2 separate regions of the Homo sapiens genome follow, and region 2 is linked to region 1. The links come from fine-mapping of genetic effects on gene expression. A gene starts in region 1. The other region holds a variant in brackets. All regions are shown on one strand. Distances are from middle to middle.

Region 1 (8,328 bases):
AAATAGCAAATCGCTCCTCCAGAGTAAAGGGTCCAAGGCCAAGTCCACTCACTTTCCAGCCAGAGCACCTGGCAGGCAACATGGTCAAGAGGTGGTACCCAGATCCCATGCCCTCCTGATTCCTTTGCCCAAAGCCAGTTGCACTCCTTCTCCTTTGTCCCCAAAGCCATCTCTTCTCAGTCCTGGGACCAAGGCAAATACCCAGCCCAAGCCTTGGTCAAGGGTCTCCTCCTGCACCCTCAACCACCTGGGGCACACACTGGACCAATGGGGTGGGCTGAAGGCCCTTCTCCTTCATGTCCCACCCTGCATCCCTGACTGTAAACTCAGTCAGAATGGAGTTCAATTTTCAATTTCATAGGGTTACTGAAAACGCTCCCCAAAAGGGAACTCATATCAAGCAATCAGGTGCATCAGAGACACTTGGAAGAAGAGCAAGGAAACCCTCATTGTGTTAAAAATTAAACTGGTGGCCTCCTGAATAAGGACATGTCTAATACTCCAGAAGCCAGAATAAAAGATAAAATTCTCTTTCCACGTCATAAGAGCCTGGAGCTAGGCCCCATGTTCTCTGTTTTACGGACATCTCCCTCCACTTTGAAACCAATGATGAAGGAATCTTCCCAAAGTGTCCTCATCCCCATCACTCTTCACCCTGGCTTTTATTTACAACACCTTCTTTTCCTGCCATCAGGAAAGGGGGACAGGAGAAAAACCAGCTGGGTCAATGTTGCTGAAACTGGTTTCCCAGTGACTCTCCAGGAGATTTCCTTAAAGTCTCAAAGACAGGGCCATGTGAGTATGCTTCTCCATCTTCTTTACACAGGCTCACAGACCTGATAATCAAGGATCTCTCTCTCGTATTGCCTACAAAATGTGGTCAGAAGAGACAGGTCCAGCCTAGGGGCTAAAGAGGCAGTTATTCCCCAGATTGGAGAGAGAGGACAGTGCGTGGCCCTACATCCACCTGTGGTGCTCTTGCATGGGCAGTAAGGCTGGCCAAGAGCACAACCAATAAGTCCCTGTGGGCTGTTCATACATTGTCCAATCTCATTGCTGTCACCAAGGTCTCCAAGCCCAACTGCTCCAGTCCCCAAGCCCCTTTGGCCGTCATTTGACTGAAGAGTCATTTCCCCAGGGAGCACGGGCCAGACCTGCCCCTCACCTCTTCTGCTGCACAACTGCTTTGAAGATGAGCAAAGAAGGCCATGCACAGTTAACTGCTATTTGCAGGAAGCATTTTCTCTAAAGTCCCATCTTCAGAGGCTTTGTAAATACTCAAAAATAATCCTTAAAATAAAAGCAGAGACACAGAAAAACTCTTCAGGGAGGGTGAATTTATATTGTCCTAATGTGGCAGTAGGGAAGCCACAGATGTAAAGACATTGCATCCTCCTCTTCCTAGGATATATTTACTTCCACACATCCTATCCATCCATCCATCCTCCTCACCAAGTAAGAACCCCAACACACACACACACACACACACACACACACACACACCCTAATTATCAAACTAAAATGAAGTTGGGATTCACAACCCCTGCTGTCAGAGAATCAACCCTGAGGTCAGAGAATCTCCCCCCAGCACACACATATCCAAGTCCTCTTGGAAGGGACTTGGAAGTCTTCAATCACCCAGCCCTGCAAAGGCACACATTGTCCACCCCTCTCGCCAGAGCTGTCAGCCCGAGGCTACGGGGGTCTTCATCCCAGGCAGATGAAGCCCGCCATCGCGCTGCTGCGAAGCTGGACTTCACTGGTCCTTCAAGACCAGCATGGGCTACCCAGGCTGGGCTGCCCGCGCTGTGCATCATTAGAAACCAAGAAATCTGCACTTTGGTATTGCTTATGTACTACCTTCTGCGGACCCCTCGCTTTCCTCTTATTAGATACCCAATCCTGGACATCCCAGGCTCTGTTAAAATAAGGCAAAAATTTCCCAGAGAAATTTTGTCAAACACCGGTCATGAAGAGAAATACAAAACGGCAGGGAGTTGCGGGGTGAGTTCCTATCAAATCAGTTCCCCAAGGCTGCTTGTACAGACACCCGTCATCCTCCGCCTGGAGCGTGCACCCTACCCAACGCCAGGTTCTGATCTGAACCATGGAGCCAGAGAAGAGGAAAGGATTTTCCAAATCTGGCTCTAGTAGGGACCGCGGGAGGGAGGGAAGTCGGGGAGATGGTGGGAACCTGTCCCCCGCCTTTTCTTTGCTTGGCTGCACAGCGCTGGGTGCCGGCGAGGTAGGGGGAGCCCCTCCGGGCACGCGCTGCGGGCCGCTGCAGCTGCCAGGCAGGCGCGATGCTCAGTCGGGCGCCCAGTTCGGAATGCCGGAGTAGGCCAGACCGGGCTCAACGACGCCACCTCTCGGTACATCCTTGTCCAGGAGAACCCGGTGGCGGGGAAAAGCGGGTGGAGAGGTGTGCAGGAAGCTCAGGCACCCAACTCCGCTCAGGGAGCCGTTTGTGGCGCAGGACGCAATGGTGAAGTCGAGAGTTTTCTGCTGAGCGACTTCCGTGTGCCTGTGCGTGCGTGAGGGCGAGCGGTGTGGCATGAGCGCTGGATGGGTGTGGAATTTCGCTTCACGCTTTAAACTTTTTTTTACGGCCTCTGCTACGGCTTTCCAGGGCCGCTCCCTGGACTTTGAAGGAGGAACCGGGGTTACCTGAAGGCCAAGGCTGGGGGCCGACTTGGCCGAGCCTCCCTCTTGGGCTGGAGGACTGCGCGCCTGGAGCGGATAGCAGCGACCCCGAGGCGAGCAGGAGGCTGGGAGTCCGAATGGCCTTCCGGGTTCCCTTTCGCGTGACGGGAGGGGGGGTGGGGGTGGGGTGGGGGTAGGGGGAGCCCGGCAGCCGCAGGAATCGGTCTGTTCAGCGGCTCCCGCCCCAAGTCAGCCCTTTTTCTCATCCAAGAATTCAAGCACCCCGCAAACAGGAAAACTGACCCTCCAAGCCAAGTATTGGAGAAAGTGAGCACAGATCCCTCCCCCACTCATCTTTAAGAAGCCCCTTCCTCCACTCCCCTCCCGGCGGCCGAAGCCTAGGGTCTCCAGTAAACAAACACACACAGCGTCTAACAACAAACTCCGTTAACCTGTTGGGGGCGTGGGGGGAATCGGACAAACCTGTTATCTCGAAAAGTCGAGGCGTCCCCCGCCTCGACCCCCGAGCAACTATCTGTCCCTCGCTCCCACCCACCCCCCCATTCCCCTTCGGTGTCAGGAAACAGGCGGACCCGCCGCCGGGTGGGTACTCACGCTGCTGTTGTGTCCCGACCAGTGCACCATGGCTTGGTTGTGGGCCGAGTCCCCGGTCAGCGCGAAGGAGGTGCTGGGCAGCCGGAGGTCTTCAGCCGCCGACCCCCCAGCCCGCGGCGCCTTCACCTCCTCCCGGGAACCCTTAGCAAGGGGACGGCTTCCTCTGGAACCATCGGCCGGAGCAGTGGCCCAGGCGTCCCCGCGTTCCTGGGTGATTGGGGGCTGCGCCCGGCGACTCCTCCTCGCGCCGCCAAGCTTGGCAGGAGCTGGGATGCCCCGGCCCCGCCGCTCGCCTGCCGGTGATGTCCCTCCGGCTTCCACCTGCATCTCACCGCCTCTGCCGCCGCCCTGCTGGGGCAGCAGCTCTGGTCCGGCCCGGCGCCCCAGCACGGCGGCTCTCCGCGCCGACGCCAGCTCCTCCGGCCACTGGCTGGCCACTGCCCGCGGCGAGAGTGGAGACAACGCCGGTGGCCGCGAAGCCGGGGCCGCCGGGCGTCCGGGACCGCCTGTCGCGTCCCAAGTGATCTCGGCGCCGGCCAGGACCCACGTCGACAAGAGTAGGAGCCCCGTCCGGACAAGCGGCGCCCCCGGCCTGCCTGCGGGGCGCTCCGTGCGCGCCGCCTCCATCCCGCTGCGGCTACCGCGGCTCGGGCTGCCGAGTGTGTGGCGCCCGCCGAGGTGCGGGTCCGGCGCGGGGGGTGTGCGCGCGCCGGCGAGCGAGCGAGCGTGTGTGTGTAGGGGGAGTGGGGAGGGGGCGGCCGGGAAGGAGGTGGCTCCGGCTGGCGCGCCTCGCCGGTCCTCTCCACTCTTCCCTCCTAGCTCCCGCTCGCCCGTTCTCTTGTCCAGAGGGTGATTCCAAACCCGAGGAAAATTAATAATTGCCCCTTCGGTGCTTTCTTTCTTAAAATCAGATTCCCCCCAATCCTCCCCACTGAGCTCCTCCAGAAATTTGGTAAAAAGGAGTAATCAAAGGTAATAAGAAAATCTTCTTAAAATATGAAAATCAAGCCGGATCCAGGAGGGGCCGGCAATAGACCCCAATCCCGAGTCTCTCCGAAATCCAGCCTCCAACGTGCTCCCGGCGAAGAGTTGGGAGCCGCTTCTGGACGCGTTTGGGGGTTTACTCTTCGGGCCTGTTATGAGGGGCGGGAGATGGCGCGCGGGGAGGGTACAGGGGTCTCGGGGGAGAAGGAGGAGGAGTTGTGTGCTCAACGCCAACTGTTCGCGTTCTAGAGCCGAGAGGGAGCCAGGTGCCTCCGCGCGGGGAGGCTGCGCACGGAAGCCAAGCGCGGGATGCACCCTGGACTCTGCTCGCCGCTCCCTGGCCCGGCCGGCTCCCGGCCAAACCCCGCCACCCAAGGCCTGCGCCCCCGCGCGGGGGCGTGGGGAATGCGTGCGTGCGCGTGCGTGCGCGCAGGCAGGCGGGCGTGAGGCGAGGGGTTCGCAGGGGGCCGGCGGGCAGACCGGGCGCTGCCGCGTGGGGGCACCTGGCTGAGCCGGGCCGGGAGCGCGGCTGGGTGTGAGGGGGCGCGCGGTTCCGTGCGTGCGCGTTTGCACGAGCATGTGTGCACGTTAGTGTGAGCGATGGCAAGTGGGGCGGGGGCGGGAGGTGTGCGCTCGGCTTTTGGTCGCGTGCGGATCACGCACGGGCTGTGTTTGCATTTCCAGGAGCCTGCGAGTGGTCAAAGAGGCAATGCTGAGAACTAGGCAGGCCGCTCTCGGCAGCCCCCTCCTCTTGGCGCCCCGAGCACCCACGGCCCCCACTACAAGCGGTTAGAACCTGATAAAGCCTCCTAGGGGATGAGGGAAAAGAGGCGGAAGGCCCCGGTGGGATCGGGGACTTGCCAGATCTTCTCGGTTGAGGGATTCTCCTTGCCCCGACCTCCCGGCCAGAGGTGGGGCGAGAGAGTAGTCGAGATGTCTGTTCTTCCAGGGAGGATCCAGACCTCATTTTGCTGCCTAGGATTTTGAGGTCGTGCCCTCACTCTCCCCAGTCCGTTTCTGAACGGACTCAATTGTTTCAAAGTGTCGGCCGCCAGTTAAGAGGGTACTCAGGCGGGAGCCGCGTGGGCTTATCTGGTCCCCAATCCGCTACTGCAGGAGTGTAGCCTGCGCGCTTGGTGCAGCTGAGATCCTTCGTGACCGTAGGAAGAAGGAGACTTCAGGTGGGCTGAAGGGAAATGAGCTAAACCCACAGACGACCTCGAGCTGCGGTTTACAGGCCCCAGGACATGTGGTGTAGCTCGCCGCCTCCGAGAAGCCCCTGGGATTCTAGGGGTTGAAAAGTCTGAGACTAGAGGAGCTAGAGGAGGAGCTATTAAGAAAGGAGGAGGCAGGAGGGAGGAGGCTTAGGGAGAGAGAGACAGCCTCCAGCCCTGCTCCTCCCCTTCGGGAGTAGATAGAGTTCCTCCTCTCTAGAAGATGGTTAAAGTGGAGCGAGAGGGAGGGGAATGCGCGGAGAGGAAAGAAAGGTGAGAGGAAGGAATGAAGGAGAAAATAGAGGGAAAAGGGGAGAGAGGAAAGACAAGATGAAGGAGAAAAGGGGCGAGAGAATGGTGCAAAAGGAAGAGGGAGATAGAAGAGGAGGCGAAAGGGCGCCAGGTAAGAGCCAAGAGGGATGGAGGAGGCAGAAGAGGCGACTGAGAATCTAAGCTGGCCAAGGAAGAAGACATCCAGCGATTCCCGAGAGCCCCCGCCCTCTTGAACTTGCCTTTCCACCCGGTGCCAAAATGGCAATTAGCAGCGGGGGAGGCTGGGCCAAAGAACCAAGCCAGCGACAACGTCCGGCCCAGAATGGTGCGGGTCCTGGCATCTGTGGGTTTCCAAAGACAGGGAGTAGCGGGTATTCCTAAGAAAAGTTCCAGCGCCGCAGGCCCAGGTGGGCGCGGGATCGGGCGCTGGACGAGAGCCGGCCATCCGCGAGTTCCCAGCGCCCCTGCCGGAGGAGGCCCGGCGCTGCAGCCCGAGCCGAAGCTCGGGGTTCGGGAGGGACGCGGTGCTGCTCTTCTCTTCAGGCTCTGGGCGGAGGTGCCACAGTATAAGAGATCTGGGCGGACCCGAGGCTCACACAGCCCGGAGGAGTGTGGTCTCCCAAGTCCTATGCGCACTGGGGAGGTGCACCATCCAGTCCCCGCAGCTTCCCGCGGCCTCTGAGCAGGAGCAGTCGGGTGCAAAAGAGGCAGACGCTCTGAGAGGGGCCTCCTTCTGTCTCTCCTGTCTGAAGAAGGCCCTACCAGATGGAACCCGGGCAGAGTTGGATCCTTGGGATGGGCTTGAGGAGATGTAGCTTAAAAGCTTTTGTTTGAAAACAAACAAAAAAGGAAAGACTCCCGCAAGTGTGACATTTTCACATGCCTCCTGCACCAGTTCGTTTTCTTGGCCTTGCTCCCATCAATTACAGTCTTCTTCCACCTGCAGCCTCTCCCTCCTTCACCCTTTGCCTGAAAATCCTTGCCCTCAGCCCTGAGCTGCCCCTGCCCCCACCCCCAGCCCCCTGCCTCCAACCCCCTGCTTCCGAGTCCCCATTAGCCTTCTCTAGTGCCCAAACTTCTCCCAGTAGTTCTCACCTGAACCCACAGTATCCTCTTCCTCACTCCTGGACTTTTTGCAATTTGACATCTGCTTTTAGGCGACTCAGTCAAAGGCCTACCCCAACACGCCTGACAGCCTCACTCAACAACCTCTTCTTCCCGCATGTGTAAACTTGTCCCATCTGAAAAGGTCTCCTTTGATCTACATGGTACTAGGATCTTCTGGGTCCTCCCTGGCCAGCCTCAGTCAAGCTTGTCCTCTTTTATCCACATCTTAAATTCTGAGCCCCAGCCTCCATCATTTTCCCCAATTCTCCGTGCTTGGCTCTCATTCTGTTTTCCCTTTCTCCTTGTCTGAATGAGCCCGGAGATCAGGCCCATTTCTGTCCTTCTACTACCATTTCCTGGTGTTGACTCCTGGATCTACAACTTCACCACATCCCCTCTTGAGCTTCACACCTGACTTCCTCATTGCTTCATACGTGTTATGTGTTCACCTTGAAACCCATATGCAGCAAAACCTAAAACCATCACCCCAACATCTTCTTAGTCACCTAGACTAGACACTTGACTTGCAAGCTTGACTCCCTCTTTTGGATCCCCACACCCATAACTTGTCTCGTCCTATTTTAAAAAGCCTTTTTTTTTTTTTTTACCACTCCTCTCCTGTTCATTCCTAGAGTCACTGCCTTATATCTGACCCTCAACATCTCTTGCCTAAGGTTTTGCAATAGTTTCCTCTCTTCTCCTGGTCTTCGGTTCTTTCCTTCTCCTAGCCAGCCTCCACACTGGCACCTTCAAATAGAAATGTAATGTAAGCCACACAGGAAATTTTAAACTTTCTAGTAGCTTTATTGAAATAAAAAGGAACCAATGAAATTAACTTTAATTTTTATTGAACTGAAGATACCAAAAATAGTTTCAATTTGTAATCAACATAAAAATTATTGATGTATTTTTACATATTTTTGTACCAAGTCTTCAAAATCCAGTGTGTATTTTATACTTACAGCACATTTCCGTTCAGACCACCCACATTTTTTCACTACCACATTTCATAACCACATGTGACTAGTGGCTACTGTTTTAAACAACACAGCTCCACACTGTTGACAGAAATAGCCTCTTAAAACATAAGGAAGATTATATCATGAATTGCCCTCCTCAAAATTTTTCAATGACCTACCATTTTTATAAAATCCAAACTTCTTAGAATGGTATCCAAAGCTCCATGTACTTGCCCCACCTCCATGAACTTTCTTACTGTATTCCTTAAGCCTGGAATGTGTCCTCTGCCACAGTATTCAACATGGAAGGGGCTTCATGGTAAGAACCCTTCTTCATGGAAGAATCCTCTTCCATGGAGCTTGCCTCCACAGCCTCATAGTACTTGTTATTATATCATTATTATTACCATCATCATGTCATCATCATCAAATTCTTTGTCTTCCTATAAGATAGGAGCTGTCCCATATCAATTTGGAATTTAAAAGAAAGGACAAAGGTTAAAGGGGGCTTCCATTTCCCTTGCTGACATAAT
Region 2 (8,328 bases), 45 kb after region 1:
TTTCCTGTGTTTGCAAAACTGCTGCAGAACACACCATAAATGGGGCTTATGACATATTTAAAGGACCAGGCTTCCTGCTTCCAATATTCTGGCAATTCTTGAAATTTCTGGGGGCAGACACTCTCCTTGCAACCAGCGTGGTACTACTCAGGCACGTTATTCATTAAACCAACAAATACTATGCCTCCAGCATTACTTGTGTGTTCAGGGGAAGATAAGAACAGAAATGTGGTTCCACTCTCAAAAAACTTACCATGTGACCCCAGTGGATTTAAAACAGAAGTTAGTTGGAGCCTATTTATTGACAGGTACCAAGGCCCACCCAAATTGATTCAAGGAGAAAGAAGATTTGTTGTCAGGAAGGGAAGAATCTTAAGGAACTTAGGTGCAGGGAGCACAGCCAGGCTTTTATCCACTTTTCCCTCTCTCTGGGAGCACCCTTATCTCCATTCTCAAGGCTTTTCTCACCACTTCTTTCTCCCTCCACCTGCTCCCTCTGAATCTATACAACCAATTGGGCATAAAGGGAGCAGGTGCTCTTGATCTGACAACAAAACCTTCTGCAAAGGAATCAAGAGACTGCCCAAATGCTAAGAAACACTGAAAGTCACCCACAATCATGGCTTCCCTGGGAAGGAAGGAGATGCAGCCCTGGGGGCTCTTGCCCCATTGACTGTGCCCACAGGGATGGAGCAGACTGGCTCATTTTGCATGGGCTTTGAAGTTGGTTCCCTGAATCTTATTCCCTCTTGGGAGAAGGGCCTTCTGCAAAGAGGCTACTTTCCAAAGAGGGATCATCATTTATAGAAATGTCGGGCCAGGCGTGGTGGCTTATGCCTGTAATCCCAGCGCTTTGGGAGGCTGAGGCAAGAGGATCACGAGGTCAGGAATTTGAGACCAGACTGGCCAACATGGTGAAACCCTGTCTCTACTAAAAACACACAAATTAGCCAGGCGTGCTGGTGTGCGCCTGTAATCCCAGCTACTCAGTAGGCTGAGGCAGGAGAATCGCATGAACCTGGGAGGTGGAGGTTGCAGTGAGCAGAGATCACGCCACTGCACTCCAGCCTGAGCAACAAAGTGAGACTCTGTCTCAAAAAAAAAAAAAAATCCACCTGTATGGAGGTCAGAGCTGCAGTCACTATGCCTCCCAGGACACAGAAGAAAAAAGGCCTCTGAGGACCTGTACTCTTGAGCCTGCAAGAGAGTACATGGCAATTACACACCTGCCTCAGACCAGAACTTAATGACTTACAATATTATCTACTCTACAAGCAGTAATGGAGAGCCTGCAGCAAGCCTATGCCTGGCACAGGGGGATCCCGAATTAGGAAACATAGTCACCAACTACGGATTCTGGATCCTACTGAAGAGCACAAACATGCCTGGAACCAACCACAATGTAAGGCAGAAGGTGGAGCATGCCTCTAAACAAGAGAGGAAACTAGCATTTGTTAAAAGACAGCTCTATGCAGGCATTTAAGCCTCCCACTCTCCCTGAAAGACACATGTTAGTGCAGAGAGTTAACTCAGGCTCAAAGAGGCAAAGGACTTTGTCCACAGCCACACTGTTAGTAACAGGATTTGGGCCCTGTTCTTCCCAAAACAGTAGGTTGCTTCCTTCTAGAACAATGCATTGTCCACAAGGGATACAGAAGGCCCAGAGAATGCAGAAGAGAAAGTGGCTCCTCAGGGGGAGCGGGCAAGACTGCATTGGCAAGATTTCTAGAGAGTTGGAAGAAGTGTTACATAAAATTAAATTACTAATGTACTTTCAACAGTGTGTGGGGAAGCAGATGTTGGAAGATTTGTTTGAAGCAGGCACAGTACGTGATTGACGATGATAAAGACAGCCTAGGAAGTACCAAGAGCAGACCCCAAAATAGCACTAAATGAGGCCACTTAGCGTAGAAGCAAATAGATCTATATCCTCACCCAGCCCCATATTACAGTGTTATATGGTTAGTGTTTCTAATGATACTTCTGGATTATGAAGAACTTGATGAATTGCACTGACATGTTGTCTAAGGTAACTAGAATGTGCCGTCAGGACTCTCTTTCTTGGCTCTGAATGGATCTTGGGCTAGCTGTGTGGTCTTGCACAAGTCAGTTAATTCCTCTGGACTTCAATCACCTCACTGAAAAAATAAGAGCTGTGACAACTCTAAAAGTCTTTCATTGGAAACAGAGTGATCCTGGAGGGAGAAATCATTCCTGCCCATCCCACCACAGCAGTGCCGACAGCCCCTGTGGGAGGTTGCCACATTCTTCCTTCTGGACCACCCAATCCATATATGGTTGTAGGCGCTAAAGACAATATCTTACTGCTTCCTCTTTCTGCTCCATTTCCCTAAAGGCCTTTCTTCTTTGCAATGGCTCTCTTTTGCCCAGGTTGTCACTCTTGATATCACGACCATACATGTTTCAAAATCAGGGGTACTTTGCCACTTACTAAAAAGGAAAAATATATATTACTATGACAATTTTTTTTTTTTTTTAGATAGAGTTTCACTCTTGTTGCCCCGGCTGGAGTGCAATGGCGCAATCTCAGCTCACTGCAACCTCCACCTCCCAGGTTCAAGCAGTACCCCTCCTTCAGCCTCCCAAGTAGCTGGGATCACAGGCATGCACCACCACACTTGGCTAATTTTTTTGTATTTTAAATAGAGACAGGATTTCGCCATGGTTGGCCAGGCTGGTCTCAAACTCCTGACTTCAGGTGATCCACCCACCTCGGTCTCCAAAAATGCTGGGATTACAGGAGTGAGCCACAGCACCTGGCTGGCAAATTATTTTTACTTAATATTTTTAAGGGCACAAGTCATGCTGTTTTTATACCAAGCTAGTTTTGCTATCTATAGGCAACGTGATTTCTACAAAAATGAAAACATGTAGCAGAGAAACCACTGATGCCCCTGGCTTCTACACTGCAGAATGTCAAGACTGAATGCAGGCCTGAACAAGCCATTCTTGTTGTGCTAGAAGCCTTGGCAATGAGGGGAGGGTCTTAGAGTTCATTTTAGTGCCCGTCCCCATTGATTGCCCTATCTCATGTTCAAAGGTCAGGCCAATCCAGATCAGGAACTGTGATTTGGCCTCAGCCCCCAGTTCTGTCCAAGGAGGGTACTTGAAGGTACAGCAGTAGAAGTCCAGTTCCTGGAGCCCTGGAGGTTCTTTAACCTTCAGAGCACACTGTTTATAACCAAATATCCCTAAGGGAGATAAGACCTTAATCCAGGGGTGATAAATAGGTTTCATCTAAAGTACCAACTTTGATCAATTCAGTAATGTCTTCCTGGAGCCTTGTACTGAGAAAGATTCTTAAACTGTTCCCCAGAGTGATATTCAAAAAGGTTAACAATCCACCAATCAGCACAAATGGCCAGCTGCAGTGCTGGCCAACCCTGCCCTGCCCAACCCTCACCCTCACCCCAACCCTTCTGGGATCTTCCAGGTGCCCTGCTGGTTTGGGTGTTAACTCTTTAGTTGCTGGGTCAGCATAGGGAGGTCCAAAAGGAGCCCTCCAGGCCACAGCTGTTTACCAGCTGATGCAGAAATGGTTCGATGTCTGAACCATCTGATTCTAAGCTCAATATCAGCTACAGCTGTCTCTCAATCCATAGGAAGTGCCAGCGGTGAATTAGTAGTGTCAGCCTTTGAGGGGGGAGGGGAAGAGAGTGCAGCATCATGTTGAATATGTATTTTACCTTTTAAAGAATCCATGTTTTTCTCAGTGGATCATGGGACTAGAAACTATTGTGTTGGCATTGCGAATTTTGACTGGACACAAATAGAGAGTTGAGAGGATGAACCTGAAACATATTCATTATCATTAAAACTTAGTAAAGAATCATATGTCTGAAAAAAATTTAAATTTGCGAAATCAAGCCTAAGGAAATTGAACTTAAAAACATCATTATGGAAAAAAAAACAACCTGAGTGATGACTGAATTCTACCAAAAATTTGAGGAACTAATCCTTTCAAACTCTTCCAAAAAAAACTGGTTATATGGAATAGAATTTCTCATAATGAAAATGGAAATGAAAACCAAAATGATTGAATTTTTTTTAAGAGACAGGGTCTTGTTCTGTCACCCAAGCTGGAGTGCAGTGGCACAATCATAGCTCACTGTAGCCTCCAACTTCTGGGCTCAAGCAATCCTTCTACCTCAGCCTTCTGAGTAGCTGGGACTACAGGCTAATGCCACTGTACCCAGCTAATTTTTAAAACTTTTTGTAGTCATGGGGTCTCAATATGTTTCCCAGGCTGGTCTCAAACTCCTGGCCTCAAGAGATTCTCCCATCTCAGCCTCCCAAAGTGCTGAGATTGCAGGCATGAGCCACCAGGTCCAGCTTCGGCTGGAAATTTTTAGGTGCATCAGATAAAAAATGATCAAAGAATTAAATTTACTTATTAGAATTTACCCTATAAAATCATCTTAACAAAAAAATTAATGTTTTTATTATTCTAATACAAATAATTTTATTTACAGACCTGAAATCAAAATGTACTTGGGGGTCAAAATAGCAAGGAACAAGCTTTCAAAAAGTCAAACTGGGCTAGGATTTGTCAATGTTTCCTATCATTTTGAGCAG[T/CAGT]ACCCTGGGTCCTCTCTCACAATTAGGACTTGTGTCACAGTCACAACATAAACCATGTGGCAATTGCTGGGGTGCAGGCGTAGGGCATGCCCCCTACATTCCTCCAGCAACAATATGCTGTCACATCTTCCGGGGGAACCCCAATTTAGAATCACCATTGAATTGATACACTGTTCTTGCGAGTGCATGATTTTCCCACTAGAGCAGGAAAAACTGTTTAAGAAACTGTGCTTTAAATATTGAGCCCTTCCCTTATCTCCTTGTGTGCCTCTCCCCTACCCTCTCTACCCTGAGTGATTAAACACCTGTGCCCTGTTCCCCACCTGCTCCCTCACTAGTCTGCTCCATCACTGTCTCTCATCGGACCACTCTGCAATAACATACTCACCAGGCCTCCTGTTTCCACTCACCCTCTTTACAATCATTCTTCAATCTGTAGCTGGAGAGATCCCTCAAAAACCTAAGTCAAATCATGTTGTTCCTCTTCTTAGAGCCATTCAACGGTTCCCTATTGCATGTAGAATTAAGCATAAAATATAAAATCCTTATTCTGGTTTATGAAGCGTTTCACAATCTTACCCCTGCCTACTGTACCAGATATATTTTGTACCCTCTCCTGCCTTTCTCCCCTCTTCTCCTGCGTTTCTTTCATTCCTGTAAATTCCCACTGTAGATCCTCAGCACTGGCAGTTTCCTCTACCTGAAGCATTCTTTCCCTGATCGTGCCCTGTTTGGCTTCTTCTTGACTTTCAGGTCATAGCTTCTCAGTCTTCTGAGAGATCTTTTCTGACCATTACCCCCAAACCGAAGAAACCACAGTTACTATTTCATCCTGCTTTAATTCTCTTCATAGCATTACACCACTTTTTTAATCTGTTTAATATTTGTCATATCCTTCATTACAATGTTAAGCTCTCTAAGAGTAGGGACTAATTTGATCTTGTTCACCATATGTAAGCACCCAATATATATTCATGAATAGGTAGATAATGAATGAATGAATGAATGAGCAAATGAACATAGGTAGTACCTTAAAGACTGCTGAAATTTTAGGAGCCAGTGCTGGGACTATCAAAGAGAAAAGAAGATAAGCTGACTCTTCCTTCTCTCAACCTAAGATGCTGCTCAAATTTGGCCTTTCCCTCAGGAAGCTTACGCTACCCACAGAGGCCTCACGTCACTGCTTCTATAGAAGTAATACACATTTGCAGGTAACCGTTTTCTCCACGGTGATATCACTGATGCCACCGTACTGTATTATCTTCCACATTGTTTTGCTCTGCCTCTTCATCTGGTTTCAATCTTCCCAACAAGAGTAATCTCCTTGCAGGCTTGAACTATATCTTTTGTGACCTTCAGTTCCTAATAGGCACCCAGTAAGTGTTTTATAAACCATATAAGTTCAGGCTTGGGGGTAATCTTAAAGATCACTTTCTTGCAATTCCCATTGTGGTGATAAAAGAGAGCAGAGACCTAGAGACTGAAGTGACTTTCCCAAGGTTATGTGGCCAGCTAGAAACAGGACTGGTCCTCAAACTTGGGTTTCCTGTTCCCAGGCCAGTGTTCTTTCTACTGTGTCAGTGGAGACCTTGTTAGAAATGCAGATTTCTAGGCACTCCTCTCAGATCTTCTTTAGGGACCCGGAATCAGGTACCCAAAGTAACTGTGGTGATTGTGACTCCAGGGACCCAAAGATGACACTGCTTCTGTGCAGGTTGAATCGTATGAAACACCTGACAGTTTTTGACCTCCAAAACCACAATTTCATGTTCGATGTAATAATATTCTCTTGGGTATAAAGCACTAAGTATGAAAGAGGAAGAGACCCAGGGAAGAGATGATGGCTCTCCAAAAAAAAATTAAAATCTGAACAGAAGGATAATCAATGGATGCCTAAGTGGAAATTTCATGAAGACAGAGAGAGCTTCCTTTTCTGGACCAAAGCTGCCCTGAGGTGCCAGGGAGGTTTTGGGGTGTAACCAGCCATAGCTTTGTCCTCAACCCTGAAAAGGTTATAGCAATAATAATCGTGTTTAAAGTTGGTATTTTTTGAGAGGTTGCGCTTTCCAAAGACCACTTTAGGCACAGGTATTAACTCGTCCTTAGAGCAATCCTATTATTATTGCTCTCACTTTACAGTTAAGGGAACTGAGACAGGGAGAGGCTAAGGAACTAGCCCAGGGTTAGGGTTAGGAAGTGGTGGAGACTATTTCTGCACCCACTACACTATTTTGAAGATGTTCCAGGGAAAATTGGATGACATTTGGCAAGGACTTTGGAAAGTCATCTCCTGCATGAAGTGAACAGTTGAATAAAAGACCTCCAAAGAAACTTCCAATCCTGGTGTTTTAGGAGTCTAGGATTCTGAGAAAGGGGCTCCAGTAGAGGAATGCTTCACCACAGTGTCTTTTTACCCAAGCACTCTCCTCCCTGCCTTCTTCCTACCTGCCTTTCGTTCAGGCACACAGTGTTCTTGGGTGGACTTACAGGGGTTGATCTAGAAATGAGGGGTTATGAATTCCCATTTATTCTACAGCTAATACTGTGCTAGGCACTACTGTACCCACATAAGGCATCATGTGTATATACTCCTCCTAACACCTCTGAAGTGGGTACATGCCCTCATTTTACAGACAAGGAGACTAAGACATAAGAGAGGGCCCTGGCCTTAGCTCGTCAGTGACAGAGCCAGGATCGGGAACATGGGTCTGTTTCCAGAAGCCTTTGCTCTTTCAGCAAAACCACAGAATGCCTAGGAAGGTGGCTGCAGAAAAGAGCTGTCTCTTCCCTGTTCTTCTCCAGTGGGGTCTGAGAGCCCAGTGGAGCTAAAGGCAAGGAACGGAGTTTTTAAATTCTTTGTTCAGGCTGCTGCAAAAGGCAGGTACCTTCCACACCCTCAGCCCCTATATCAGCTAAGCCCACAATCAGATGAACTTATCCCTGGATGTTTCAACATACTATGACCTATCAGAAGGCATGCGGTGGGATAAACCATGTGTCTTCTCCAACTTTAATTGATCAACAAACCTGGAAAATCACAAGAGTCTGTCCAGACAGTCCAACAACAAATAAAAGGAAGATCAAGATGTGCATTAAACATTTAAAATCGGGACCTAGCCCAGCCCTCCCGAACTGTTCTTCTCTTCAGGTGGGATTAATAGAGCATTTGCTGAGCCGTCAGCTCCCCTTGCCACTGAGTGAGAACCACTTCCCTGCAAGGCCCAGGGAGCAGGCACCTCTCCAGCATCCTAGCTCTGGTTCCTGCCACAGCAGGGACAGATGCTGTTTCCTTTACTTCCCTTATAATGATATCATTTACCTTGTGGGTTCCTTTGGCTGGTTTTTGTTTTATATGCTACAGGAGTTCTGAATTAGCCTCTCTCCTCTACCATCTGCTGATGAGAATGACGACATTTGTGAAAAGCAGCTACAGAGCCTCTTTTCCCTCTTTACTTAAAACCAATGAGAAGGAGATCTGGGACCTGGGCTCCAGACCAGACTCACTGCTTCTCCACCATGGGGCACCAGGGCCAACTAGCATCTGGGATTTTACTATTAGATAAGAAAAGATACCACAGTTCTGAGGCCAACTCCACTCACTGGCTCCAGCTCCTGAGTCCCCTCTCCGGCTGAGCTCTGTCTGATAAGGCCATGGCCACCCCATTCCCCCTTTCAAATGTCTGCAGAGCAAGGGGCCTGGCACCATAAGCTTGGCATTTTCCCAAGGACAGT

What was found. PIP is the estimated chance that this variant, and not a neighbour inherited with it, causes the effect.
Region 2: its variant is fine-mapped to the expression of SORCS3 in whole blood (INTERVAL, PIP 0.93).

What each region holds. Positions count from the first base shown.
Region 1 is chr10:104,636,885-104,645,212 of GRCh38, reverse strand. It overlaps SORCS3 (sortilin related VPS10 domain containing receptor 3), which reads right to left and starts at 3,923. Exons shown (of 27, transcript NM_014978.3): 1 at 3,259-3,923. The coding sequence starts at 3,885.
Region 2 is chr10:104,591,492-104,599,819 of GRCh38, reverse strand. LOC105378464 (a long non-coding RNA gene) reads right to left here. Exons shown (of 8, transcript XR_007062285.1): 3 at 4,985-5,104; 4 at 3,708-3,812; 5 at 2,326-2,451. Among named protein-coding and RNA genes, the nearest start is that of SORCS3, 46 kb to the left of the region's middle. The variant T/CAGT (reference allele first, on the strand shown) is at 4,597.